4 linked regions of the Homo sapiens genome follow. The protein of the gene in region 4 interacts with the protein of the main gene of each other region in a pairwise test. Each region holds a gene or a part of one and is shown on either strand. Other genes may lie near its edges.

What was found.
Region 1: the proteins of TMEM171 (region 4) and SH3GLB1 interact in binary tests that used the Homo sapiens proteins (3 or more experiments, as listed by UniProt).
Region 2: the proteins of TMEM171 (region 4) and LAMP2 interact in binary tests that used the Homo sapiens proteins (3 or more experiments, as listed by UniProt).
Region 3: the proteins of TMEM171 (region 4) and PRPF40A interact in binary tests that used the Homo sapiens proteins (3 or more experiments, as listed by UniProt).

The regions. Positions count from the first base shown.
Region 1 is NC_000001.11:86,714,576-86,722,369, reverse strand, and holds part of SH3GLB1 (endophilin-B1), read right to left. Parts: intron 6,647-7,794; coding exon 6,505-6,646; intron 2,864-6,504; coding exon 2,735-2,863; intron 1-2,734. UniProt on the Homo sapiens protein: May be required for normal outer mitochondrial membrane dynamics. Required for coatomer-mediated retrograde transport in certain cells. May recruit other proteins to membranes with high curvature. May promote membrane fusion.
Region 2 is NC_000023.11:120,421,966-120,429,084, forward strand, and holds the end of LAMP2 (lysosome-associated membrane glycoprotein 2 isoform A precursor), read right to left. Parts: 3' UTR 6,662-7,119; coding exon of another isoform or gene 6,519-6,661; 3' UTR 4,183-6,518; downstream 1-4,182. UniProt on the Homo sapiens protein: Lysosomal membrane glycoprotein which plays an important role in lysosome biogenesis, lysosomal pH regulation and autophagy.
Region 3 is NC_000002.12:152,709,141-152,716,934, forward strand, and holds part of PRPF40A (pre-mRNA-processing factor 40 homolog A), read right to left. Parts: intron 6,987-7,794; coding exon 6,855-6,986; intron 5,490-6,854; exon of another isoform or gene 5,458-5,489; coding exon of another isoform or gene 5,410-5,457; intron 3,228-5,409; exon of another isoform or gene 3,164-3,227; intron 1-3,163.
Region 4 is NC_000005.10:73,120,840-73,128,633, reverse strand, and holds part of TMEM171 (transmembrane protein 171), read right to left. Parts: intron 5,329-7,794; 5' UTR 5,261-5,328; coding exon 4,621-5,260; intron 245-4,620; coding exon 103-244; intron 1-102.

The sequences.
Region 1 (7,794 bases), on a different chromosome or scaffold from region 4:
TTTAAGAGTATGTGTCTAAATGAAGGAGACAAAGATGAACTTCCTATTGTAGCATAGATAATTGTACCAATTCTACCAATGGGACTAAAGAGGGCAAATATACCCCAAAATATTTACGGTCACAGTCGGCCCTCTGTATCTATGGGTTCTGCATCCATGGATTCAACCAACCACGATCAAAAACATTCAGAAAAAAAAAAAAAAGGATGGCTGAGGAGCCAGGCACAGTGGTGGCATATGTCTGCAGTCCCAGCTACTCCAAAGCTGAGGGAGGAGGATCGTTTGAGCCCAGGAGTTTAAGGCCAGCCTGGGCAACACAGCAGGGCCTGTCACTATTAAAAAAAAAAAAAAAAAAAAAAGATGGTTGCCTCTGTACTGAACATGTACAGACTTTTCTCCCTTGTCATTATTTCCTAAAAAATACAGCATAACAACTATTTACACAGCATTTACATTCAGATGATTTAAAGTACGAGGGAGGATGTGCATAGGTTATATGCAAACACTATGCCATTTTATATGACACCTGAGTATCCATGGATTTTGGTATCCTCAGGGTGGCGGGCCTGGATCCAATCCCCCATGGATATCGAGGGGTGACTGTGGTTATACTTATAAAAGTATAATGCTTCCAAGAGATCAAGTCACAATTTGTCCTGTTTCTACATCCTTGCAGTTATCATCTGAAGTATCTATAAGTAATAGTTCATAGTGATATCTTAAGTTAAAAAATCCATGCTTTTGCAATACATATACTCTGATACTTAAATAGGGCAAGTACAGTACAAAGTAGAGTAGAAAGAAAGGAAGCCCCAAGATCAGGGTTCCACTCCTAGTTTTACTTCTAATAAGCTTTAGCTCTAAGGATCTTAATCCCTTCATGTTAGGATAAGCTTTGATCTGACTGATAAGGAAGGTAATACAGATAGTAGTTAAGAGCTCCGTCACTGGATACAGACAGATCTTCATTTGAATTACTATACTAGCTGTGACTGTGGATTAATTATTTAACTTCTCCAAACCTGTTTCCTTGTCTTTAAAATGAAGGTAATATAATTTATCTTAAAAGCAGGATATAAATGAGAATTAATATGTAAATATATATACTATATAATGCTTAGCCCATGCCTGTGATACTCAATTTTTAGTATTAATTACTAATAAGGTAATAGGTTCACAAAGCCCAATTCTAATAACCAGGGTACATTCACTAGAATTACTAGAGGTGCAAACAGATTAAGCAGATTTAAAAGGGAAGAAAATCTAGAAGCCTTTACTAATGTTCATGCTCTGCTAAAACCTTCTTCAGCCTGGTGAAGGAAGGGGCTGCTGGGTTCCTTTCACATACCTTTATGATCCCAGCATCTAACTGAGCTTGGCACAAGTAGGCAATAAAACATCTGTTTAATGTATAACATTTTTCTAAAAATTAACAGTAAAATTCAGAAATAATTTTATTTTGAAGTTCTAAGCATTTTCAAACTTAAAAATTAGATTTTGAAGAACACAATGTAGAAGTTTCAAAGTTGTGTACCTAAAAAAGCCTGTCAATGGATTAGTGGCATTCAACAATATTTAGGTTATTTCTTTCTGACATAAAGATAACTACTAAAGCTTAAAATTCATTTAATCCTAGAATTTATAAACCATTCTGTAAATCAGAACTATGTGTAGAAATTAATTTAATCTACCTACCATTTCATATCCAAAGACCAGTATCTTGCAGATGTATAAAGAGAATTATTATTAGACATAAACAACAGGAAAAGAAGCTACTGAAATCTGTAACAGTCTCATGTTATGAGAAAATTAGAGTGACAATAAAGATGTGTATGTAACTTTGAGCTTCAGGGCTATACATTTAAAGTCTGTACAGCAACTAATAAAGCGAGTGTAACTAAACCACGGCTATAGAAAATTTGAAATACATAAGAGAAAAACAGAAATGAAATGTAATCCAAATATCCAGAGATAACAATTGTTAATATTTTTTGGTTACTGACATTACTGCAAAATTATAACAAAAGCACTGATTTGTTCAAGAACTACGTGCCAAGTACCTTTAACATAAAATAAGCCCTAAGAAAGCTTTTTTAAAAATGAAGAGACATATGCAAACAATAATTGCAATATCACAAGTATTATAACATAGGTATTGTAAGATCACTGGGAGAACAAGTGAAGAATTCATTAAACTTTTTAGAACTAAAAAAGATGTGAATTCTCTGAATAACTAAATATATGCTTGAATATATTAAATATTACATTTAACTGTATATATTTGCCTATATTTCTCACTTCATCAAAAATTTTTAACATAAATTTGAAGTTAAAACCAATTCTACTACTATGTTTTTTTTTTTTTTTTTTTTTTGAGACAGAGTCTCGTTCTGTGGCCCAGGCTGGAGTGCAGTGGTGTGATCTTGGCTCACTGCAAGCTCCACGTCCAAGGTTCACGCCATTCTCCTGCCTCAGCCTCCCAAGTAGCTGGGACTACAGGTGTCTGCCACCACACCCAGCTAATTTTTTGTTATTTTTAGTAGAGACGGGGTTTCACCATGTTAGCCAGGATAGTCTCGATCTCCTGACCTCATGATCCGCCCACCTCAACCACCCAAAGTGCTGGGATTACAGGTGTGAGCCACTGCACCCGGCCTACTAATATGTTAATGACATCTCTAATAAATCTAAACATAAAGATATCCCTTATTAGAACTTTTTGCATTTCACTTACCATAAGCTGTTCCTGGGCCAAACTCAGTCCCTGCATCAATCATATATTGTCCCAAAAGTTCTGGGTTGTTTATACGACTTGGAGCTTTTCTATCCAGTTTCTCATAAACAAATTCTTCTATCCTGGCATCTAGGAGAAAGGTTAAAATTACCAATGATTTCTAAAAAGCAAAACTAATTAGAAGATTGTTTTTTTCCCCCATCAGCAGCCATTTATCATCTCCTAAAGTTAGCATTCATTCAAGCACATATCTTAATAAATAATTTTTTAAATTTTATGTTAGACTATTATATAACTAAAAAATTATATTTTAGAAATTTGATAAAATATCTTGGCACAAAAGCATTTTAAAATAAAATAAAATTATTATTTGAGTATTCTACAAGATTTTAAGTTCCAGAAAAGGACTGATTAATTCACTTAATATTTATTGAAGGTGTCTTTGCCCTGTTTGTAGCATTTTAACTCTAATTTTTACTCTGAATGTACATTCATAATTTCAAAATCAGGATTTCTGGCTAGGAAAATACAGATATAAAGTACCTGGAAGAACCAAAGACTTACATCTGACAGCTTTAGCATGAGCATTTGCTCTCTCTTTTTCTTGCCTAGAGTCTAAATATAGACACAGGCGCTTAAGGCATAGAACAATCCAGGCTTGGAATAGTCTACAGACAGATCAGCAATATGATGCCTTGGCTTTAGTTTATGTTTAAAGTATACAAGTATATCTCTGAGCATGCATTCACTCAAAAGATTTCATCATTAAAAATAAGTTTAAAATACGAAAGGTTAAAGCAATAATAGAACATTAGAATAAATGGAAAGGGGAAAAAAACAAAAGCTGAATAAACACTTGGTTAGCAAAATGCTTAAGACCAAAGATATTAACATTTACAATGCTGTCCAACCTAGAGGTATTTCAGGACAAGTGAAAAAATGGCTTAAGTTTCCAGAAACAACGATTAAGCATAAATTGAAGCTAAGTCAAATAGGTTCCCTCTAAGTACCTCACATAGATTCCTACGCATGCGGAAGTTTCACACAGTGCACTGAAAATTTAAAAAATGAGCTGAACCAGTAACAGAAACATTTCAGGAGTTGGTAAAAGGCTTAGTTATAATACATAAAATAGAGTATAGCAATGATACTTGCTTTTGTGGTAGATTCTAGTACAAAATCAGAAGTTTTAAAGCAGAAATTAAATACCTTTAAATAGTTAAAACCAAAAAGAGCTTTTTAAAACATAACCATTTAGAAGATACTAGTTAAATTTCAGAACTTCATTTTGGCCCGGTGTGGTGGTACATGCCTGTAATCCCAGCACTTTGGGAGGCCAAGGCAGGTAGACCACTTGATGTCAGGAGTTTGAGACCAGCCTGGCTGACATGGTGAAACCCCGTCTCTACTAAAAAAAAAAATACAAAAATTAGCTAGGTGTGGTAGCGCATGCCTGTAATCCCAACTACTCGGGAAGCTGAGGCAGGACAATCACTTGAACCCAGGAGGCAGATCTTGCAGTAAGCAGAGATTGTGCCACTGCACTCCAGCCCAGGTGAAAGAGTGAGACTCTGTCTCAAAAAAAAAAAAAAACAGCTTTGTGTTTTGACTCTGATTCTTAATTTTGACTGCTTTTCCACCTATCTGGCCAAAAGTTTAAAATGGAATCTTATGCTGACTTCGTTCAGTTAATAAAATATTTGGAATACTAATAAATGTTTAATTTCAATAGGTTATAATAAAATCTTAAATATGCAGGCAACTCTGCTACAATGTAATATGTATTTCTGCATAACGTATTTTTGAAAAACCCATTTCCAGAAGATCATACATTGAAAACAACATAGGAATTACAAGAAAAGGAGTGTTAGGTTTGGCTGCTCAAAACCTATGTAACTTAATAACCAGAGCACAGGCTGGGCATGGTGGCTCACACGTGTAATCCCAGCGCTTTGGGAGGCTGAGGCGGGCAGATTACCTGAGGTCGGGAGTTCGAGACCAGCCTGGCCAACATGGAGAAACCCTGTCTCTACTAAAAATACAAAAATTAGCCGGGTATGGTGGTGGACACCTGTAATCCCAGCTACTCTCAGCAGGCAGAGGCAGGAAAATCGCTTGAACCCAGGAGGTGGAGGTTGCAGTGAACCAAGATCACACCACTGCACTCCAGCCTGGGTGACACAGCAAGACTCTGTCTCAAACAAAACAAAACAAAACAAAACAAAAAAACCACAGCACAAACAAAAAACAAAAACAATTATTACGACTTCCTGGCACAAAACAGGGGCAGGAGGAAATTGTATTTTATTTCCCTGTTTACCAGTTGTGAATGAGCTTATTTCCCATTCAGAAAAATATGTTTAGAACAAGGGGAAAAATGTCTATTACTTTTAATAAAAGTGCCAGAGTGTAGAATTTAAATGGCCTTAAATGAATAAAAAATATTACATGGTGTCCAAAGACATTAGGACTCACTCAAAGTGCAAAAAGCTTATTTTATTTCCAACTTTTATTTTAGTTCAAGGAGTACACATGCAGATTTGCTACCTGGGTATACTGAATGATGCTGAAGTTTGGGGTACACATGAACCTGTTACCCAGGTACTGAGCACAGAACTCAACAGTTAAGTTTTTCAACCAAAAGGTGTATTTAAAAAGTCACTACTATTTAACTAAAATGATAGAGAACTGCTAATATTTATATAGTGCTTGAAGTTTAAGTTAGTATCTAAAAGTAAGCATATGTCATATCACAACTTGGTCCCAAACAAGTTGGGGAAAAAAGAAGGAAAGCATACATTGTACCTTTGTTCTTCAGTTTTGATATGCAAAGCTCACAGTGAAAAGACTGGATGTTCATACACCCGGTTCTAGTCCAATTTCCACTTCTAATTAGCTATGCTACATTTGACAAGATGCTAACTCATGAGTTTCATTCACTAAACAATTATGCACCTTAACTGCAAGATTATTGAGTTGACTTATCTGAAAATCTCATAGTTGTCTGAAGATGAAATGAAATAATTTATGTGAAAATGTAAAACTTAAACATAGGCGGGGCGCAGTGGCTTATGGCTGTCATCCCAGTACTTTGGGAGGCCGAGGCAGGTGGATCACGAGGTCAGGAGTTCGAGACTAGGCTGGACAACATGGTGAAACCCTATCTCTACTAAAGACACACACACAAAAAAAAATTAGCTGGGCGTGGTGGCACATGCCTGTAATCCCAGCTACTTGGGAGGCTGAGGCAGAAGAATTGCTTCAACCTGGGAGGTGGAGGTTGCAGTGAGCCAAGATCACACCATTGCACTCCAGCATGGGCGACAGGGCGAGACTCTGTCTCAAAAAACAAACAAACAAACAAACAAACAAACAAAAAAACACACCAAAAACTTAAACATAAAAAATGGTACCTACTTAAGCAACTATATAACTTTGTCTTAATTATCTAGGGACAATTCTTCCCTAGATGAAAAAGGAAAACATATTTATATACACAGCTGCTCATAAATTAAAATTCAAAGTCACTGCCTAAAATTGAGATTTTTTACAAGGATTCTATAAAAGACTGAAAAATATCATTTTAAAATTGGTTAGGTACATAGCTGTTTATCACTTCCTCTTCACAAAAGCACACACAAAAAAACCCACTGACCTTGAAGCTACAATAAAAAAATCCTATGTTTTCAGATGGCCATTAAAACTTTTTTTTTTAACATTTAAAAACCCACTAATAGTACTTAAGGTACACAAGAGGTAGAGTTTCTTACTTGGATTTGGCTGCAATAACACTTCAGTTTGTTTCATTATTTTTTCTGTCCATATTTTGGTACATTCAGCTTTGCTAAGGAGGTTCTCTAAGTGAGCATCCAATTCTGTCTTCTCAGCCTGGCCAAGCTTTTCTTCTGTGAACTGTTATTGATTGTAAAACAAAAATTAAATATACTGCAAATAAATTTTAGGGAACCATATCAATAAGTAAAAAGCAAATTCAAAGCTAAACAATCCTAAACATACAAATAACCATGCTCCAGCTTTGTAAGCCATTGCTTATGAATACTTTTTTTTGCTCCTATGGTAATTTATCCATACTTCTTTTGTGGATGACCCTACCTTACAGTCATCACATACCCTTAGTTCTGCTAAAATGTATGGTGTGAATTCTACAGAAAACCTAAGTATACTTCTTGGTATATAAAGCATGCAACTATTTCAACTACCTATCCTAGGTAGACTAGGATAACGGTAAAGAGTAAGAGCTTTGAGTCAGTTGAATCTGAATTCAAATCTTAACTTTGTTCCTTGCTGTGTGAGCTGAGCAATGTATTGAATATTTTTTCTTTAGTACCCTCTATTATAAAAGAGAGACAATACATATTTTATAGTGTTTGGGGGATTAAGTATGATTGTGTATGCAAATCACTTTGTTTGGTGCCTTGTAATTATTAAGTTTTGAAAGAGCTGTTAATGTTTATTGTGGTTTATGTCTTATTAGCACTTTAATCACACCTAGTTAGATAAATAGTTTCCCAGAACATACCATAAAACCTGTCATTTAAGCTGCTGAGGATATGTTCCAGCAATTTATTTATAGACTAACTTTTGGAACATATCCTATTCATACTATGAAGACATCTTTTAAAGGTCATAAAATGTGGTTAAACGTACTCAATGAATCAATTTTTATTATTGAATATACTGGTATTTGAGAAAAGGTAGCACTGCCTATATAATAATAAAGCAGTAAAAAGATTCTGTGTAGATCTACAGCCTTCTGGATACTTTTAATTAAACATTAGAGGTGATGACTCAAGCTGTTTATCATGCATCATTTTCCTCTAGAATATGTGGCTTCCTCCCATCTTAACACAGGTATATCACTAGCATTAATTCTGTGCTCAGTAATGACTCACTTCTGGCTGACAAAACAGTGTTCACCTTGCCTTTCTCTCCTTTCGTTTCTCAAAAATCTCGTTTGCTACTCTATTTTCTGAGTTTTATTGTTTCTTTCAGCATCCTTCTTCTTGGTTTAATACTTTCAGGTTATTATCAACACCTTA
Region 2 (7,119 bases), on a different chromosome or scaffold from region 4:
AACCCAAAACTTTTTGAGTGCCGCCATGATGCTCAAAGGAAATGCTCGTTGGAGCAGTTCAGATTTTTCAGATTAGGGATGTTCAACTGGCAAATATAAGGCAAATATTCCAAAATCTAAAAAAAAAAAATCTAAAATCCAAAACACTTCTGGTCCCAAGCATTTCAATGGGATACTCAACCTGCGTTTCTTTGTTTACTAGGGAGATGGAACATTTTTTTCAAGTTGCTTATCTATTTGCAATCCTTCTGGCATGACTTTGCTATTCATGTCCTTATTCCAGCTTATTCAGGGAATATTCATCTTGTTTGTATTTATTTGATAGTAAAAATATCACCTTAACTCTTTGTTATATTTAAGATTGCAAATACTTTCCTTTGTTTGTAGTTTACCTGTAAATTTGTGTCTGGTAGCATTTTAGTGGTCAGATATATTAAATGTTTTTATATGGAAATCTTTTTTTCCACTGCCATTTCTTCTTTTTCTTCTATTCTTAGGAAGGTCTTTATTTTGAGATAAAATAAACAGCCATTATATTTGATTCTATATCTTTTATAGTTTTTTTTTAAAAACTTAACTCTAATTATCCTTGAATTTATTTTGGTATTGTGAGGTAGGCGACTAAGTGTATTTTCTCCCAAATAACTAACCTAGTATCTTAGTATCTCAGCATCATATTTTTTCTAATTTATTTTTTTGAGACAAGGTCTCCCTCTGTTGCCCAGGCTAGAGTGCGGTGGCATAATCATGGCTCACTGCAACCTCAAACTCCTGGGCTCAAACAATCCTGCCACCTCAGCCTCCTGGGTTGCTGGGAATACACGCATGTGCCACCACGGCCAGCTAATTTTTTTTTATTTTTTATTTTTTGTGGAGATAGGGTCTTGCTATTTTGCCCAGGCTGGTCTCAAACTCCTGGCCTAAAGTGATCCACCTGCCTTGGCCTCCCAAAGTGCTGGGATTACAAGCATGAGCCACCATGCCTGGCCCTCAGCATCATTTTTAAACGTTCCATTCTTTCCCCACTCATCTGAAAACAACATCCTTATCAAATACCAAATATATATATATATATATATACACACACACACGCATACTGTATATACATAATGTATATACACATACACGTACATACTGCTGTATATATTTGTGTGTATACTGTGTCTTGTCCTTTGAACTGTTGCTCTATTCTTATACCCACCTAACACCTGATTCTAGCTTTCTAATACATTTTAGCAAATGCAGTGCACGTTATTATTCATTATTCATTTTTCCCTAAACTTTCCTTGTAGTCATCACCCATGTATTCTCTCAGTTGAAGCTTTATAATCTAATTCTGTATTCCTTTGAGTCCAAGATGTGCTTCTTGCAATTGGATTCTGTGAGACTTACCCCATAGCTTCACAATTCATTCTTTTTTTCTTTTCTTTTCTTTTTTTTTTTTTTGAGGCGGATCTCGCTCTGTCGCCCAGCCTGGAGTGCAGTGGCAAGATCTCAGCTCACTGCAAGCTCTGCCTCCCGGGTTCACGCCATTCTCCTGCCCCAGCCTCCCAGGTAGCTGGGACTACAGGCGCCCACCACCACACGTGGCTAATTTTTTGTATTTTTAGTAGAGACGGGGTTTCACCCTGTTAGCCAGGATGGTCTTGATCTCCTGACCTTGTGATCTGCCCGCCTCAGCCTGCCAAAGTGCTGGGATTACAGGAGTGAGCCACTGCGCCCGGACTCTTTTTTTCTTTTTAACCCAGTCTGAGTAGATTTCTGTTCCTTAAGGTTTTATCTCACCTTACTCTCTCTCTCCACTTCCTCTTTCTATGATATTATCTGAACAGCTGACATCTGTCATCTTTAGAAAGAAGTCCAGATTAATATAAATAAAAAGCTAACATTGGCCGGGTGTGGTTGCTCACGCCTATAATCCCAGCACTTTGGGAGGCTGAGGCAGGCAGATCACTTGAGGTCAGGAGTTCGAGACCAGCCTGGCCAACATGGTGAAACCTTGTGTCTACTAAAGATACAAAAACAGACAAAAATTAGCCAGGCGTAGCAAAAGGGTCAGTATGGCTGAAGTGAATACAGGAAAGTAGTAGATAAGGAGGGAAGGGCATGGGGCTTTCGCAGATTATGGCTGGAAACTTTGCAGGTAAAGATTTCTTGAAATCGGCCATGCACACAGTGGCTCACATCTGTAATCCCAGCACTTTGGGAGGCCAAGGCAGGTGGATCACCTGAGGTCAGGAGTTCGAGGCCAGCCTGGCCAACACAGTGAAACCCCGTCTCTACTAAAAATACAAAAATTAGCCAGGCGTGGTGGCTATCCCAGCTACTTGGGAGCTACTCGGGAGGCTGAGGTATGAAGAGTAGCTTGAACCTGGGAGGCAGAGGTTGCAGTGAGCCAAGATCGCGCCCCTGCACTCCAGCCTGTGCAACAGTGAGACTCTGTCTCAAAAAAAAAAAAAAAAAAAAATTCTTGAAACCCTTCCCAAAAGGCCTTAGATTTGGGAATAGGAACTGTGTATTAATAAGGTTCAGAACCACCTGGCAAAGATAGTTGAGTGTCATGGTTACAATGCGCTTAAAGCTGAGGGATGAAGGGAAGGGGTATGAATGGTATTAAGGAAAGTGAGAAGAGAGACAGTTCCATTTAGTTTCTTAAACACACTAATGCACAGTCAAAATGATTCATGGTACAGAAGAGTTTGAGAGCAGAATGACAATGATATGTGATCAGAATAACTAGATGAGGCTACCCTGAAAAAAGTGACATTCGGGCTTAATATTACTGATGAGGTACAGTGCAAACTGGCCTTGGTTTTGATCTTCCAAAAGGCATGCTGCCACAACATCCATCTGCCCCACAAGTGGGCTGGATAAAACTCAAGTTATTTTAAGAATATTGAAGAATATTTATAAGGCAACTACATACAAGATAGAAGAGTACAGAAGTCAGATTTCTGTAACCATTTAATGTAAGGCATGTGCTTTAAAAAAATCTATTGCTTCTGCAAAAGGCAGATGTATAGTGGTTAACTGCATGGTCTTTGGCGGGCAAACAGAACTGGGTTCAAATGTCCATTTTGCCACTTAATCCTGTGTGACTTTGGTTAAGTAACCAACTCAAGCCTCAGTTATCCCATATGTAAACTGGAAATGATACCCCCAACCTCAGAGAGTTGGTGTATTAAATGAAATAAGGTGTTTAAAGTGCACAGCACTGTAACTGCTCAATAAAATTATGGATTTTTCCTACTAAAGATGCATTGTATGGCAAGATTTCTCCTGTTCATTATGCATACCTCTTGAAATTAAAGGGACCCAAACTTACACTGCTATCAAAATACATGCAGACAGTAAAAACAAAGGAAAGGAAAAACATTTCATCAGAATTCTAAAGGCAGTTCTGGCATTCAAAAAGTATACACATTGAAGTTAAAAAGATGACCCTCCAAGTTGACTTTTTAGATACACTGTAACCCTCACAGCAACATATATCGAACCACTCTTCCTAATTATCAGTCAACTTAAAGTGCTTCTTTCAGAGGCCTCATGAGGTGGCAGTTATGAAGGCCATTTTTTGACTTAATTACAAGCTATTAAACGTCTTTCAGAAAATGAAACCCTATTATTCTGGAACTATGGAGGGAGCCAATGTCTAATTCCTTCTCCCACCAAAAATACCTCTCATGTAAAAAGGAGTATGTTTATGTATGTGTTGTTGTTTTATCCAATTATATAAAAATTAAGCATTAGACTAGATTGTAAGGAATTTAAAGGAAATTCACAAAATGGATAGCTCCTCCCCTTGCCCCACCATATCCCTGAGGTATATCTCACTCAGAATGAAATGAACTTCAACAATTAGTATAGTTCATCAATGCAGACAGACATACGCGGAAAGTACGTTTGTTATGATGTTCTTACATTTGTTAGATTTCCATATTTTGTTTTTGATGTTTTCTTGTAATTTCCATGACTAAGTAGGTCCCCCTATTTGAGGTGTCTGTACTAAAGGTTCTGTACTAGTGCCTTCCTAATGACGGGACTTGGTTAAGTTGCAGATCTATGAGATCCTATGATTCCTGTTGACAATCCAAGAGACTAGAATTCAAGAAACTTAGATTATACAATTAAGTCTAAGCTCTTAAGGCTGAGCATATGGAATAAAAATGAGGTTATCCATAGTGGTATGGAATGTATGATCTTTATTAATTTTTAATCCATCAATCTAAAATCACACATACTAGATCAAACAGAAGTACCACAGTATGCTTTATTTTGCAGGTATTAATTGGTTCTCTAAATCGATACATCCAAAACTTTAGTTAGCAGCAAGCATCAGTTCTTCCAAAGCAGCTTAGGTGAAAAACAATTGTTTACATTCACCAGTTCAAAGTCGTACTGTCTGATCCACTGTTGTATTGACATAAAATTGAACTCAGTAGGCAAAGCTAATTGAACACTCAGCTCATAGATTTTGAGCTTCCTTTATCTTATTGGAGTTGAAGCAGTTTTTAACCCTCTGTTAATATTCTCTATTTTAATTCTCAAAGAATTAAACACACATATTTTCTAATTAATTAAGATAGAGCCATGATAACTATTGAGGAATTAGTGATATTAGTCTCATACCCAAAAGGTAGAACACTTTTAAATGAACCCATAATTTTGAATGTATCTGAATTTCCAGTTTATATGCTTAGCAAGGTCACAAGCTGATTTTATTAATCTGGCTTCTAGATAATCATCTCAAAAATATGTATTGAAACAAAGCCACTGTTTTTTATGATGACATCATTTTAACCAAATGCTTTTATAACAAATAAGCAGTTGTTCTCAAAAGAGAACATTTTAAAAGAAAACATTCTTTACATACTTAGCAAATAGAGGAGAGTGTGAATCTGTATGTCAGAGCTATAGAGTTCTAGAGGAGTTGTAGTTGAGCAATCTAACTTTCTACTCCAGTTTTTGAGATGTACATGTTTTTGAGATGTACATATAGAGAAGGCAGTAAAGAAAGATCTTGATAAATTTTCTTTAACAAAAATTTGTAATTCCAGTTATTGGCAAAGGGTTCTGGCATGAGTTAATGGCAGCAATACAGTGGTGAGCTTCTGCATTGTGCTGAGAGGTAGATTGGGACTTAATCCTTGGAATGAATAACCAACTCACTTTATTTAAGGTTCAGGCTTAATTTTTTTAATCCAAAAAAAATTTCTGAAGTGAAGGCAGATCTTTGGGAACTTTTGTTTTTAGTTAAATGTAGAGATAAAATAGCTTGATAAAATAAACATCTGCCTTATACTAATGACAGGTGTACAAAGCAGCCATTTGAACCCTAGACAACTTCAACACTGCTTCCAAATAAAAGGGCAATTCAACAGCTGAACCAATCAAGCAGACACAGGGATGAGTGGTCTCCAGTACCTTACTCCAGAAGCCGGAGCCATTAGCAGTCCCTACAGGGATATAAGTCTATATCAAGATCAACAAATGTACAGAATAATCTTAGTCCAGCTTTGGCTAGGCAGGCATCTGACTGATGACATATCAGGGCCCACTAACCTCTAGAGTAAGCACTTGTTGCTGTGAGAAAAAAGAAATCAATATATTAAAAATATCAACTAGAGCATATTCACATAGGGAATGGGAGAGTGCAGGAGGCACACAAACAAAGTATATAGAGTTTTTGTTTTCAGTGCAGGATAAATGAACCTTCTTAACAAGTTAAGGCTCTGAGGGAAAAAAACTTTCTAAACCATAACCTTAATAAACCATAACCCATACAGGTGTTCCAAATCAACACCTTTTTTAAAAAAAGCTGGAGGTCTTACTTCATCCTTCAGTATAAATGTCAAGTCTGAGATAATCAGTATATTCCAAACTCTAGAACAACAACAACAAAAAAAGAAATCTCCTTGTTAAAATATAGTAGCTATTAACAGTAATGAAGAAGACAGCCAAACTTTTGCTATTAAATACAATATCATGAAGCCATTTCTTTCTTAACTAACAGAAAAATACAGATTTAAATAATGCTGATCAGGAGGTGGGGAAAGGAAGTCTTATCATGAACCAAATTTCGTGTCTGCCACCAATGAAAATGAATCCACTATGTTCTTGAATTTATTTCCTGAAGCAAGTTAAATTCTTTAACACCTTTGATTTTGCAAATAACATCAAAGTAGTAAAATATAAGTAACTGTAACATATAAAATTACACATCAGCAAAAATGCTTTCATAATTGGATCCAGGGGCTTAAAATCATTATTTACTTAAAAAATTCTAAGCCACAATTTTTCTTTTAATTATACTTTAACAAAGGAAGAAAAAAAACAGAAAAAAATTGGTCCTAATATATTTTGTCTTAAATAAGTGTACTCATGCCCAAGTTAGCTAGGAACTCACTGAAGTTAGTCTGCATATCTTAAACAATCTATTGCACAGCATGTCCTGGCTTTTAGCCAATGGAAACGTAACTTCTAATTGAAAAAAACAAACAAACACTAGATTTAACTGATTACACAGACTGATAACCAGTACGACTTTTCCTTCTTCCAATCATATAAGAGATAAAGACAACAATTATAAGGAAGCCCAAGGCCACACCCACTGCAACAGGAATAAGAAAGTTGAGGTCAGAGTCAGCAGAACATTCTTCAGCTGTTAGAAAAGAACAGACAGCAAGGAAAGGAAATTAGCAAAGAATGCAATTAAGTAGTAAAAAGCATGCAAGAAACATGCATTTTGAAAGTGTACATAGCTTAGTTTTTTATAGCATTACCTCTATTTTCTTATTTGCTCAATATCTCATTATCACTTTATCTAAAATCACACGAAATTCCTCAGTACGAAAAGCAGAAGGTAAGGGAAGAATGGGAAGGGTCCAAAATAGAGAATTGCGCTTGCCTAATATGGGAAGACTTTAGGTTTGATTATCTAATGACACTGGGTTAAGGAGCCATCATCTACACTTAAAACCACTGCCTGTGTATTTCCCTACTCTCTTTCTCTTCGTCACACCTATAATTAAAGTATAAATAAGAATTCTGTATAAGTAATAAAATTTAAGTTAAAAAAGACTTAGGATCAAGAATGTAGTATATATATACATATATATG
Region 3 (7,794 bases), on a different chromosome or scaffold from region 4:
ACATCTCTAATAACTGCTAAGTACAACTAACTTGCTTAAAATAAGTGATACATAATGTACAAGTACTTGACCAGACAGCGAAAGAAGGCAAATACAGGTTGAGAGGCCTTTATACAGAATGCTTGACACCAGACTGGGATTTTTTCAGATTTGCAGATATTTGCCTTTTTACCTACTGGTTGAGCATCCCTAATTCAAAAATCTGAAACATTCCAATGAGCATTTATTTCGAGTGTCATGTTGGCACTCAAAGTTTTAGATTTTGGAGCATTTCTGGTTTCCAGATTACAGATACTCAACCTGTATAAAATATTCATAGCCACTAGATTTCCAAATGTACGGAAATACCATAACAACCAAATCAGCAGTTAGAAGACAAAAATGAGTTCAAAATGGCATCTCAGGAATGACCTCCTTGAGAGCAGGGCATACATCACCTGTACACTAGGTACCACACCCAAGATACTTAAATGTGTACTGAATAAAAGAAAAATAAAGGTAAGGAAAAAAATAAGAATGAGACTGATAATTTCTACTTGGAATGTCATCTATTAATTCCTACTTATAAACCTTCACAACATGGACCTATTTCTCTAGGTTAAAAACAGGTTGGGCAAGGCGGCTCATGCCTGTGATCCCAGCACTTTAGGAGGCCAAGGCAGGAGAATCACTTGCGCCTTGGAGTTCGAGACCAGCCTGGCCAACATGGCGATACCCTGACTCTACTAAAAATACAAAAATTACCTAGGCATGTGGCACGCACCTGTGATTCCAGCTACTTGGAGAACCTGGGAGGATGAGGTTGCAGTAAGTGGAGATTGCACCATTGCACTCCAGCCTGGGTGACAGACACTCTGTCTCAAAACAAACAAACAAACAAACCCCAAAATCCCTAGTACACTGCTATGGTGTAGCATATGTACCAAATCTTTTTTTTTTTTTTTGAGACAGTTTTGCTATTGTTGCCTAGGCTGGAGTGCAATAGCGCGATCTCAGCTCACTGAGACCTCCACCTCCCAGGTTCAAGCAATTCTCCTGCCTCAGCCTCCCAAGTAGCTGAGATGACAGGTGTGCGCCACCATGTCCCGCTAATTTTTGTATTTTTAGTAGAGATGGGGTTTCACCATGTTGGTTAGGCTGGTCTCAAACTTCTGACCTGAAGTGATCCATCCACCTCGGGCTCCCAAAGTGCTGAGATTACAGGCATGAGCCACCGTGCCTAGCCTCAAATCTTTACTATCTATTAATACTACTATTAGTCTTATCATGATATTCAACAAGCCTAATTTAAAAATCAAAGGTTAATCTATTGACTTGTTTCCTCTTTTGATCCACTATCTAATGAATACATTCATTGCACTACACAAGCTGTTTCGTTTATGCATATGTGTGTTAACACTAACTTATTTTGATGTTGCCTTTTTCTCCTAAAGAGCAAACTAAAAGAATAAAGGGCCCTAATTCAGCATTTCTCACAAAATGCTAATTTCATACAATGTGCTACACAAAGCAAAACAAATGCTTTATGTGGGAGATTTATGGGGGAGATGGTCAAATAAGACAGAAATACTAAGTAAAAATTGTAAAAGGCTTCTGCAAGACTTCTCATCACTTTAGTAAATATTATGCCTTGTGAATTTCAAAAGGGGAGCAGGGGATGCCGGTCATTCTTCTCAACTGATGTGGTCCTCCTTAGATCTTTCCACACTAAGTTTGTGAATAGATGAGCTCATATTTAAATGAACTGCTATCTAAAGATAATGAAAATAAACGTATTTGTAGTCTCACTATTAACATTTGTCAAAAATCTAACCACATTGAGTCAAGAATTTACAGACATTAGGTCTGAGTTAAGATATTTTTTAAAAGTACTTGCTTGAGTCATCCACATGTACCCAGAAGTTACCCAGATTCAAGAATTATGAGCAGATGACCTAAAAAACAAAAATTCTATCTCTTTTTTGTCACTGGCTAATGCCCAATTCAATGGCATGGATCCTGTAGCTACTCAAAAGGAAGGGTAATTCAGAAGGAACAGCAACAAATAAATTTGTCAAATCAGTCAGGTAAGTCTAAGGTACCAATACACTAAATTTCTCTGCAAGGCCTATATCCTACTTTGTTATTTTTTCCTCTACATTACCTCTACATTACTTATAATACCTTACACAATGTAAATGCTATAAAAGTTATTATACTTTATTTTTAAAAATTTGTATTTTTTTGTTGTTGCTTTTTTAAAGACTATTTTCCATCGCAGTTGCTTGAATCTCTGGATACAGAGGGTCGACTGCAAATGGAAATATTTTAGTTTTATTCTCCAAACAAAAATTATTTATTTCATCTTATTTATCTTCCATTTTTGTCAAATGAAAAAGTAAGAGTAAAGAGGCAGACACTAAAAACAAGAATAAGTAGTAACAACGTAAAGTCACAAGTAACCACTGGAAACAGTCACATTTAACACTGACTGACTTATGGGCTTATACTGCAGGAAAGAATACCTGTGTATTTGTTTCATTCATTCAACAAGTATTTTACTGAGCACCCATGATGTGCCAAGAACTGTGCTCAGCACCTATAGGCTTCTTAAAAAGTACAGAACATAGCCCCTGCCCTCTAAGAGCTTACAATCTATTACTTGTTGGAAAATTAAAGCAAATTAAGAAACCATAAAACAAGTCAATAACTAGGTGCCAAAATAAGTGAAACGGTAAGAGTTATGGGTAGATTACAAATATTTTCTTTAATAATCTGAAGGGGAGGTATATGTTGGCAAAAGTCATTTTTGAGAAACTTTTGGAGAAGGCAGGACTTGAAATAGTACAACATAGGTAAGCAAAGCAAACTTCATGGTGATACTGAGCTGGGGGCAGGAGGGTAAGAAGAACAGCCTAAGTTTGAAGTTGTGAACTAATATAATCACTCAAGACACCGTGAAAAGACCAGCCTAAGTTCAAATTAGGGAGTGTAAAGACATGCAGCCTTGAATCCTGCTTTGACATGTACTATGGGGAGGTTCTTTAAAGTTAAGCTGTGGAATTTAGATACTATGTTATAGGCACTGAAAGTACTGGAGATTCTTGGGCAAGGAGATAACACATTGAAATCTAAAATTTGTGGGGGCAGGGGGGCATCCTTGAAGCAAGAAAACCAACTCAACTCAAAAACTGTTGAATAACCTAGGCATGGGAGAGTGACGACTTGGGCTCATGTGGTAGCAGGAACTGAAATAAAATAAGATCTATTAGAGCCAGCCTTACTCAATATAGGAGCAAGAAAATCAAACTCATTTGTAAAAAGCAATTATTCATTTATCAGTTTACTGACCAAAGACCAAAAAAAAAAAGCACTGAATAAATAGAATTAGGGAGGCATTACTAAAGGAATTTTCTGTTCTTTCCATATCATCCCATAAAATCTGATATCTACTCTTATCAAATGATCTGAACTGAATCATAGGATGTTAGAGCTGAAAGGGACCTTAACTCAATTACTCTACTCTTCTCACTGATAGAGGAAAATAAAGACTCAAATAGGGAGGAAAAAAAAAGAGCCAGCTAGCATGACTCTGGGGCAAAGGCATAATCATCTGTGATAAAGATGGCAGGACCTGCATGTCCTTTGTGTAGAAAACACAAAAGACATGAAAACAGTATTTACTATGGACACTGAGGAAGAAGACAGCCTCACACATAATTTTATTGATAGAAATCTCTACAGAAAATCTTTATTTTTTTGAGATAGGGTCTCACTTTGTCACCCAGGATGGAGTGCAAGGCGTGATCTTGACTCACTGCAGCCTCGACCTCCCAGGTTCAAGCAATCCTTCTGCCTCAGCCCCCTAAGTAGCTGGGACGACAGACGCACACCACCACACCCAGCTTATTTTTAAATAGTTTTTGTAGAGATGGGGTTTCACCATGTTGCCCAGGCTGGTCTCCAACTCCTGAGCTCAAGCGATGCACCCGCCTCAGCCTCCCAATGGGAAATTTTTGAGTACTGCCATCCAGCAGGGAAAATTCTTTATCTTTCTTTACTAACATTTAACCAGTGATCCTCAAAGCATCTTAAATCACATATTATTTAAAGCTTAAACAACCTGTAAGGTCCCTTTCAGCTATAAGATCCTATAACTCTAAAAGTATGACTTTCCTATAAAGTTATATAGAATAAGAGGCAAATTTAATCTACAAGATAGAAAACTGAAATAAACCTGAAAGAATATTAAGCTCAATTTGATAATCATCAAATATTTATTACTACTAAGAGTCAGCCTAAATGCATGAGATGGCACTCTAGGTCATCTCATGAATTAAGAAAAAAAAAATTTGAACACACCACTTCTTTAAGCTAAATAGCTTGATGCATTTGAGAAATTATGAACCCTGGCTTCCGTACATCATTATGCTACCCAGTCTGCATATTATTTTACAAACAAGTTTTACAGTTTCATGTCATATTGGTAACATTCCAAAGACCACAATTATTTGGCAAGTAAGACTGCCACCAATTTTAGTCTTTAGCTAGTCCCAGCATGAGATGTTCATGCAAACCAGTCAACACATGAAGGTTTTTATAACCTTCAGTCCCAAAGTCTAAAGAATTTGTGAACTGACTTTTTTAAATTGCATGGCAGAACCCTCCCAACTGTCACTACTGTGAATGATACAGACAGACATCCTGCTTCTTCTCAATTATCTTCTGACCACTTATTCCTCCTGAGTACTTCCAAGAGTGGCAGAAGAAATAATGCAGGAAAAAGGATCAATTGTCCTATTTATTATCACCTTTAATTTTTAAAGCAATGTTTACAGAGTTTCAAATATGATTTCTGATTTGAGAATTCAAATTATCCATGCTCTCCCAGTCTGTTATAAAGCTAAAACAAGAATTTGTTTTACCAAGATTTGGGACCCATATTTGTTAGTGAAATATTAAGGGGATAAAAGGGAATTATATAATTCTGACAAAAACAGCGGAGATTCTTTTGGGACTTTCAGGGCATAACTCCTACTAAAACATTTATTTATTATACTAACAGGAGCCTTCAGAGGGAGAAGAATTCTAAACATCTAAATAATTAGGTCTACTTAAAGGCACGTGGCATATATTAGCCTAGGAAAAAGTAGAAGAAAACCACACCAAAAAAATCAGTTATTTGAATGGATGTGTACCGAGTAGCAAGTAAACTTACTAGAAAGATGGTCACTGATACAGCTAAAGAGAAAGGGCCATAAAGCAAACTGTGACCAGCTTATGTCAATGAGATACATGAAAGTACTTTTAAAAAATAAAATCTGCATTTTTTTTTTTAACTAGAACTATGACTAGCTGGTATCTTGGTTTTGGTAGTGCAATAGCACCATTACAGCAAGGGTAAGCAGGTCAATCCCTTGCAAAACTTACCTTGATTGGCCCAATGGAAACAGAAGGCCCCAGAAAAGAGAGAAGCATCTGGCAGTAGCAAATTGTTTTATTTTATCTTTCTGTGGAAAGAAACTAATTTTAAATAAGAACCAGAGCATTTAAAGAATAAATATTTTTAAAGCTCATTATCTAGTTAGAGCAGCTCTACCAAGAAAACAAGAAGAGCTCCTTGCTCCTTAGAGATGGAAAGAAACAGAAGAGGAATCAAAGTTGTTTCTCCATCACCTAGAGAGTTTTAAAATTTGTGTTATTCTAGAGTAACAGAATAAAAGGCTCTTTTATTTAAAGAACTCCTGCAAGCAGAATCTTTTGGGGCTGGTGCCTTTGAATAAAGGTTTTGTTTTGTTTTTTAACAAAATTAAGGGCAATATTCCAAATTAAAAAAAAAAAGAGGAAAATCACTGGACATTAAGCCCTTCTACTCTTAAGGTTAAGTAAAAAGAGACAGACACATAGCAAGCTCCTTTTCCCACTGCAATTTCACCAATAACTTTAACCATGAAAGCTTAAACAATTATCAAACAGTACTAATTAGCAAAAGATCACATGAAATTGGCTTCCAAAATATTTTGTTAGCCTAAATTTTTGATGATTTATGGAAATACTCAAATGGAAATAACCCAGCCACCTAAAGATCTATTATAGAACTTAACATGAAGCACAAAATTACTCATGGTAACTGAACCTGTTACCTTTCTTGGATGCTTCTCTAGAAACTCAGTTCTACCGAAATCACTGAATCAGCATTAAAACCTTTTGATCCAAATCACTCCTACAAAATGTCCATTTACAATTTATGCTAGAGATGGAAGGGACAGCTCATAAGCAGGAGTGTAGAAGCAACAAGCATTAAAAAAAAATAGTATAAGTGGAAAATGAACTACCTATTGGCACTGTCCTATGAAGAATCAGAATTATAGAGCACAAACTCCCCACCCTCCCTCACCCTCCTCCAACACACAAAGAGGAAGATATTTCAGGAATAAAATTCGCTCTAAACCAAAACAATAGCTATTTTCAGATTCTATTTATTTACATGGTCTACCAAAATCAGTTATGTTGCTGTATCAGATAATATTTACTTAGACCATCAACTTCAATTGGCATTCTTGAAAAAATAATCATTAAAAATAAAAGCCTGGATCCACACTTTACTTTTAAATAATAAAGAAAAAAATTCTTAGTTTTGAGGTCATCAGTAAATTTCTCAGAAGACTTTTTCATTATTTAAATTTCTCAGAAGACTTTTCCATTATTCAAATTTCCGTTACAGTCATGATTTAACATTTGGCTTATTTGAAATTATTCGGGCATAAACTAATCATTAAACAGCTATAACTACTGACCTAGATTCTGAAATCTTGATAGAATACCTGAGGCAAAAACAAATAAATAAATGCAAAATAAAACAAAAACAGTCTTACTTGTCCCATTGGTGGCCCTCCCATAGGGGGCATCATCTGCGGCATCATTCCATGAGGTACAGGAGGCATATTCGCTCTCTGACCCATAGGGTGCATTCCCATTGGGGCATAATGCATGCCAGGGTGCCCCATCTGAAAAACAGTGAACATTTTTAAATGAGCAAATAATACTAAATGCTTCTCAAAAATCTCATTTCAACAGATCAGTTATCTGAAGCGACATAATATTAAGCTTATGTGTAATAACATCATTGGATTAGTCTATACCTTGTTTCAAACAAAACGCATTCTGCTAGTATTTAAAACGAGCTTGCAAATTCCGTAAAAAAATGGGAAAAGTTAAGATGAATCCTGGACCGCTGGATCATAGGTTTTCTCTCTCTTTTTTTTAAGCACTGACTTAACCAGCTACTAATTGGCTTGCTAAGCTTGGAGGATACACATTGAATACTAATTTTAAAACTGTTATGGTGAAAACAACAACTCTCCTATTTCATGCAGATATAAAAGATAGCCAGCTATTGTTATTTTATAACACTACTGATTTTAAACTTTAAAATGCTCTATCCAATTAACTCAGGTGAGAGTCGGTCTTACAAAACACAAACAGTATGGCTACCCAGGCACAATTCACTCCTAACAAACTTATTTCCTAACATAACCTTTAAGACAGGTAAAATTCCTTCTGCCAAAAATACATTTTCAAAGACTGAGGTTCTGTCACTCACGGACACTAAATGCAAACAACTAATTCATCCTTTTTAACGCAGTTTAAAAAGACAACTACTTTCTTTACCGATGAGTCCATTGTTCTATGTTTTAAATTAAAACCACCTAATTATCTCCTGCCAATTGTCCCAACAGTTCCCCCTGCAGACCACCCCGACGACTAATGAAAACAAATTTTGGCAGCCGCTGTTAAAGTCTTACAGTATCAAGC
Region 4 (7,794 bases):
AAAAGATACTCACACTTGAATGCCTCCTGGTGAACCACACAGCCTTAATACTAGTGTGGCCTGAATTCAGGCCTCTCTTGAAGTTCAAATTGAAATTCTTACCCATAGTTGAAAATACTGTAATATGAAGGGGGGTTTTCATTCGGAAGCAGACTGTTAGTTCCAGGACTCTCAGCGACCGCAGAAGCTGAAGATTCAGGAAAGTAAGGTGGTGGAGGGGGTGGAAATATTATTACCGAGTCACCTAAGGCAAAACAATATTTAGTTGACAACAGGTGGGTAATAAATGGAAGCAAATTAGCAAAAGCAAAATTAATTATATATTTGGCCCATCTATATAAAAGGTCAACACACCTGCTGCTAACTCCAAAATTTAAAAGTAAGCCCATTAAATGTATAGAGATAGAAAAGTAGACTAGGTTACCAGGGGCTAGGAGGGGTTCGGGAGGAGGAAGGGAGTGGGAATTGCTGTTTGGTGAGTACAGAGTTGCTGTTGGGGATAATGGAAGAGTTCCAGAAATTGATGATGATAATGGTTGAACAACATTGTGACTGTATTCAATGCCACTAAACCATTTAAAAACGGTTTGGCTGGGTGCAGTGGCTCACACCTATAATCCCACCACTTCGGGAAGCTGAGGAGGAAGGATCGCTTGAGCCCAGGAGTTGGAGACCAGCCTGGGCAACACAGCGCTATCTCATCTCAAAAAAATTAAAAGAAAAAATTTAGCCAGATGTGGGAGTACACGCCTGCAGTCCCAGCTACTCGGAAGGCTGAGATAGGAGGACTGCTTGAGCCCAGGAGTTCTAGGCTGCAGTGAACTATGATTGTACCACTGCACTCCAGCCTGGGTGACAGAGCAAGACCCTGTCTTAAAAAAAAAAAAAAAGCCAGGCGTGGTGGCTCACGCCTGTAATCCCAGCATTTTGGAAGGCCGAAGCGGGTGGATCACTTGAGGTCAGGAGTTCAAGACCAGCCTGGCCAACACGGCGAAACCCTGTCTCTACTAAAAATACAAAGAAAAAACAATCAGGCAGGCGTGGTGGCAGGCGCCTGTAATCCCAGCTATTCGGGAGGCTGAGGCAGGAGAATTGCTTGAACCCGGGAGGCAGAGGTTGTGGTGAGCCAGGATCATGCCACTGCACTCCAGCCTGGGTGACAGAGTGAGATTCTGTTTCAAAACAAAACAAAACGAAACAAAAAGCAGTTTAAATTGTTTATGCTTTATATATATATATATATATATATTTTTTTTTTTTTTTTACCACAAATTTTTTAAAAGTAGGCCTACATTTCAGAATCCAGAGTGCTGACAATTATGGTATGAAAGCAGGTCTATATTTTGTAGCAAGTCTAAGACCAAGCCTTTTTGTGAATTGTTTGCTAACAAGCTCCTTTCCCTCCTCTGGGGTGTCTACTGCTGAAAAAGCTTTTCTCGTTTTCAGCCTACAACTTTAATTCACAAGTTAGCTGTTGGCTAAAGTGCCTTGTTCCTCAAATGTAGTTTCAGCCCCTGAGCAAATGACAGTAAGCCATATTACAGCCCCTAACTGTTATTTACCAAAATTTCACCCATACAGATGAAGGTTGAACCCAAAGAAGTTTGGTTTTTGCATTTCTGTGGCTACTGTTCACTCCAGAATACATCCTCATGTTTTGAGGAGAAACTAGGGACCAGATGCAAACTCTAATTTGTATTCCGATTCCAATATAAAATGCACCACACAAGTGGACCAGAACAGTGTAGAGCTCTGGCAGCACCACTGCTGGGGGCCTGGTGAAAGCCTCTGAGAAGCTGGCAATAGCAATAACAGTTCAGAAAAAATGAAGAAGATGGGGCTTTACTTCCCTGTAGTGGTTCACACTCCTAGCATGTCTGATGCTTGCTTAGGGTGGCATAGGATTCTTTAAAGTGATGGGGGTTCCAACCTGAACAAGCTAGGCGACCTCCTTGACCTCAGCCGCCACAGCTGTAAACTGCAGGCCAGGCAGTTCTTGCATCACAGGACAGATAGAAGGAAGGACTAGATGGACTGATTTGCATCTGGCAGTGAACACAGTGCGGAGCACAGAGCCAACTCTCTCAGCTCAACACCAGCCGAGGGCACTGATTTGCATGATGAAGAAACACCACAGAGGCAATTGGCCACTGGCTCCACTCTCTACCCTTCATGAGCCACAGCAGCCTCAATCATTTCCCAGAGGGAATTTAGCCCTTCAGAAAATGCATTAATTCCATCTCCCCTTCCTTCTCCAAGGAGAAGGCAATGAGAGTTTAAAATACGTTTTGCTAATCTAAAGGTGAGAAAGCATAATAGCGGTCCTGAGATTCTCATTTACTTTTTTAGAAGGTCTTGGTAGGTTAGAGGAATTGGGGTTGTGTTCACTTCCATTACACACTGTAGAATAAAGAACCTGTGAAGTAACCCTTGAGGGCAGGCCAATCACCTCTCAAAAACACACAAGGATATGCTCCAGTAACCCTGTTACCTCCAAGGGTCTCCAGCCCTTTGGCCCAGCAGCTCCGCCTGCCCACACCCTGCAACCTGCTCTCCCTGGAAAGAGGCCTCTCCTCTGCGAGTTCCCTTTCATGCGTCTTTCAGAACTTGATGTCCTCTGTGAGCAGACAACATATACACCCCTCCAAGGAGAGCTGTCTCATATACCTGCTGTGTATCCAGGATAGCACTGAGTGTACCCACAACAAGGAGAGCATGCTTCTTGGATTCTAAAAATGTAAACCCTATTCCACAATATCAAAGGAGAGGAATTAGGATGCAAGATTTTCATAGGTTTGATGGGGACTTAAAGAGTTAAGTAGAAAAGATTTTAAACCATGCAGTGCCAACTTCAGGACAAGGACACCAGGAGCAGCACCACAGCTCTGTCCACTCTGATTCCAGCTACCAGGTGGAAGGCTGGGCCCCAAAACTCCCCTCGAACCGTTCCCAACTAGATGAAAGCATAGCAGCGTTGGATGAACATATTTACTTGTACCCCACGGTGTTCCTCAAGAACACTAAGAACATCTATCAAATTAAAGGGAGCCCCTTTTTTCATGTAATAACTTCCAGGAACACTTGGTGAAGGATAAAATGGAATCACACCCACGTGCCCTGGGCAGGGTGCTATGCAAGGGCTATTCTGTGGGTGTGCCCAGACACTTGGGTTGGAACCTTGCTCTACCACTTGCTAGGGTGTGACCTTAGGCAAGTCACTTGATATCTACATGCCTCATCTTCTTCCTGTGTAACATGGAGGTACTAACGTTATCTGCCCCCTTGGATTGCTGTAGGTGTGAATGAATTTCACACAGGGGACCTTTAAGAGCACATGATAAAGCACTTAAATGGGTGTTTGGCACAAAAATAGACCCTATATAAGTGTTAGCTATTGTGAATATATAACTAATATTTGTGTTGTCACCATAAATATATTAATGCATAAATATATTAATAAATAAGCTGGGAGCATCTACCCTGGCTCTACACAAGGAATGGCTGCAGATCCATCTGCCCCTCCTCTCCAAGGCTGGTGCCATGCAAGTCCAGCAACCCAGTTCCTCCCCTCCAGGCTGCAGTCAGTGAATTCCACTGCTTCCAGTAGACAGCCCCAAACAGGAGATGCATCTCACTTGTCACATTCCCTCTCTGTCCTCTCCATGGTTTCTGTTCTGAAGATCTCTTTTCCTAGCCTTTTAAATGTCAGTGGTTTCACAACTTTACTCTTTCAAAAGTAGGAGACTGAAAAAAAGTGATCTGCCAATGAACAGCGATGGGGTTTTTCCTTGGTTGTGTGAAGCTGAGGCCAACGCTACTGCTATTGTTCTGAGGGGGCAGGCTCTGGGAAATGGCACTCCATCTCTTCTGTAGAACCCGGGGGACCCAAAAGGAACTTGTAGGCATTCCACGGGAGAAAGGTGCTGTCATATTCCATCTTGGTTCATCCCGCTGCTTCCAAGCTTTGCCTCAGCCCTGCAGCCACGGATGATGTCACAAAAAAAGAAGGACAACACAGAGACAGTGCAGAGGCCCCTCAAAACACCTGGAGACTGCTGGACTCAGACAGATCCAGAATCCTAGAATGTTAGTGCTGCAGGAATCTTAGAGAGGCACTGCTCATTTTATAGAGACATAAACCAAGGCAGGAGAGGTTAAGGACTTACAAGGACAGCCAGCTAGTGACAGCCTGGGAGGAGAAACCAAGTGTCCCACAACTAAAATGCTATGTGGTTTTGGTGTGAGAATAACAGGGGTAACAGGGTCACTTAGTGAGTCCCTAAGGTGGCAGAAGGCTCCAAGGCTGTCCTCATGGTTCTTCTCACTTTCCTCTTAATTTGCTCTGTGACCTCAGTCAAGGTCACTACTTAATATCCCAATGCTTTGCAAAGTAGGAAAGAGTTGCTGGGGGGGAAAAGATGTATACAAGGTTCCTACGGGGCTTCCCACAGCAGCACCATTGTGTATGTACACATGATGGGGGTGTGTGCGTGTGCACACACATGTGTGAGAGATGGAAGAATTGAGAAAGAGAATCCAGACGAGAACCAAGAGCAGCTGGTGAAACCCTGCTGCAAAGCCACTGTGATAGAAGCAAGAACGCAAATAACAGCAACCCACCTACAGTGACCTGGACAGGCTCCATAATCTGGATCTGTCCCTCTTCTCTCTCAGAGGCATCCTGGCCAGCATTCAGCGTGTTTCTCTTCTTAACATGGGCAACCACGAAGAAACACAATCCCACAAGCACAATCAAGGGCCCCATGATCTGCAGAGAAAGGAACCCACACATCCGGGGCTCTGAGTCGCCAGTGTCTGTCTCGTTTAGCGGTTCCTGCGCCCAGTTGGAGCCACATCCAGGGACCCAAATGCCCAGGACGCTGATGAGCATGCCGCTTGTCAAGAACAGAAACCCAAAGATAAGGCACTGGGCAAACTGGCGGCTCTCTCCACAGATGAAGGCTCGGTCGGGGTCCATCTGCTGACCTCTCTGCAGCCCTGCACGGAGCTGAAGTTGCGCCCGGGAGCGGGCCAGGATCACAGCCCCAAGCCCAACCACGGCACATGCAGGCCCCGCCACCTTGAGCACCATGGGGCAGTCTGGGAGGGGCTTATATTGGCATGCCTGGAACCCAAAGATGGAGAGCAGGACTCCCACACACAACAAGACGGCGCCGAAGACAAAGAAGCAGAAGATGAGTTTGCTGACGTGTCTGTCCTGCTGGTCCCCATCTGGCTCAGCAGCAGCTGCAGGAGACATGTCCAGGAGAGGCCCCTTCCCGGAGGCAGGGTGGGATGTGTTTTCTTCCCTCCAAGATTTCAGCAGCTCTGCAAACACAACCAAACACCAAATTAACGTGGGCACAGGTGTTCCAGAACCACCCTGGTTTTTTGCTGATCATTTCTGAAATCACACCACAATGAGGCCTTGGGGGTAGAACTTTATACAACTGATAAGCTGTAGAACAATGAGTTGGTTTATGAGTCAGATAAACTAGCATTCAGAAACTCCTAAATATGTAATTTTACAAGATATTCAAAACAGGAAATTAAATTACTACACATCTAAGGGTATCTTTTTTAAAAACTGAAAGAACAAAAGTAGCTGGGTGTGGCATTTCCTTTTCTGAGTCTTACAAACTCATTTCCCTGGGGAAAAAAGCACTGGTGAATGAGGGAAGAACCACAGGGATTCTTTCTGATTGCAAATGCCCCACTTTTCATCATAGCTGCTCTCAGCATTTTCAAGTCAGTTCAGTAACTAACTTTCCATTTCCTGTTTTAGACTACAGCAGCTTTCCATTTCATGTTTTATTCTAAGGCTACATCTACAAAAGACCCAATTTCAGCAATTTCAATAGAATAAGAAGTCTGTTCAGGAACACAGTGGGTTTGGTGGACTTTTAAGTTGATTCTATCAAAATGTGGTTCTTGAGGCCAGGCGTGGTGGCTTGCGCCTGTAATCCCAGCACTTTGGGAGGCAGAGGCAGGCAGATTGCTTGAGCTCAGGAGTTCGAGACCAGCCTGGGTGACATAGCAAAACCCCATCTCTGCTAAAAATACAAACTTTAGCCAGGCATGGTGCCTGTGGTCCCAGCTACTTGGTAGGCTGAGGTGGGAGGATTGCTTGAGCCCAGGAGCTGGAGGTTGCAGTGAGCCAAGATCACGCCACTACTCTCCAGCCTGGGCAACAGAGTGAGACCCTGCCAAAAACAAAACAAAACAAAACAAAATGGTTCTTGGGTTCTCAACAAGCACAGACTGGTGACCCAGTTGCTTGGATCTGGGATGACCCTGGAAAGTGTTGCACAGCAGGTCAACAGGAGCTCAATTTTCAGAGTGGACAGGTACCCAAAGGCTGGTGTGGCCTCTCACTCACCCTCCTCCATGGTGTCACCTACTTCCACAAAGAGGTTGAGACTCAGTTAAAAAACAAGCAGCCAATAAAACTGCTAGTTATAAAGCACAAAATGGGTGGAAGGGGGGAACTTGGCTTTGAAAGAATAGTATAAGTGGAATCAAGTGAGAAAGCACCTTCCAGAAAATCACCCAAGCCCTGTACTTCAGGGGTATAATATATTAAATATGCCAAGTGGTTGTTAAAGAGTTGTCTAGCTTACACAGAGCTGACCTAATTATCTCGTTATCTTATTTTACTCCAATGAATGGGATATTTTACCAGGACCCCGTAAGTCAGGTCCTGCAATTGCAAAGACAATCCAAAATCGTGAAGACTATTTTCACCTGCCCAAGGAAAGAAAACTTTTAAAATATTTTGTGCCGCTCACATCCATGGTCCCATGAAGGAACTCAAGACTGAGGCCCTAAGCCCAAGATGATCTTGACAAACCAAAATCACACTGAGGGAAGGTCAGTTTAGGTAAAGAAAGCAAACAGGCAATCTTACACTGGGAAAAACTTTTCCAGGAAAAAGTATGATAGAATCAGAAGGAAGTTGGAGAAAAAAAGGAAATATAGGAGGGAAAAAAGCTTTCATTTCAAACTTGGAAAAACTTGATATACAGATGCAGTTAAGCTGAGACAAAGCATTGCACTAATTTTTTAATCTTCCCATTTTTTATTAAGTCAGTAACATCCTGCAGTGAATAAGAATTTCATATTGAGTATACAGTAGTCCTCATTTATCCTACAGGGAGTACATTCCAAAACTCTCAGTGGAATGAAACGATGGAGAGTCCTGAAACCTATATATATTGGTTTTTTGTTATTGTTGTTGTTTTAATTTTTTTCCTGAATCATGCAATCTCTTTTGCGGTTTCGGAGACAAGAAAGAGAAGGGTGATTCTCGGCTGCAAAGTCCTATCAGGAATTCATTTATTCCCAGTATAGTCAACTTTGCAGTGAGTCACAAGGCTTCAACTGTCTTAAGGCAAATTCCCAAACACCAGTAAATAGAAGCCCAAAACTGAATCTGTAGTTTCTTGTCCGTGGACTAGTGGACGGAGCACCTGGCTGAGTGTTCACCTCTGATCCATAATAGTGTGGAAATACTCTCTCTCTCTCCTTCTCCCACAGATGCACTCACAAACGGATACAAAGACACCCACATTCACTCGCAATGAAACCTTTTCCAAACACCACCCTACACTTAAACTCCCCAAAGCCAAACTCCCCTCTCCAACACTCCTATTGGTTTTCCAAAAGACATTTCCAAAATTCACAGCACCTCTCCACGTCCAAAGCTATGGTGCGTTTGGGGAACGAAACGAGAGGCAAATGCCTTCTGTGCGAAATCGGTTTGCGGCTTTTAGGGAGCCCGAGCGCAAGCAACAG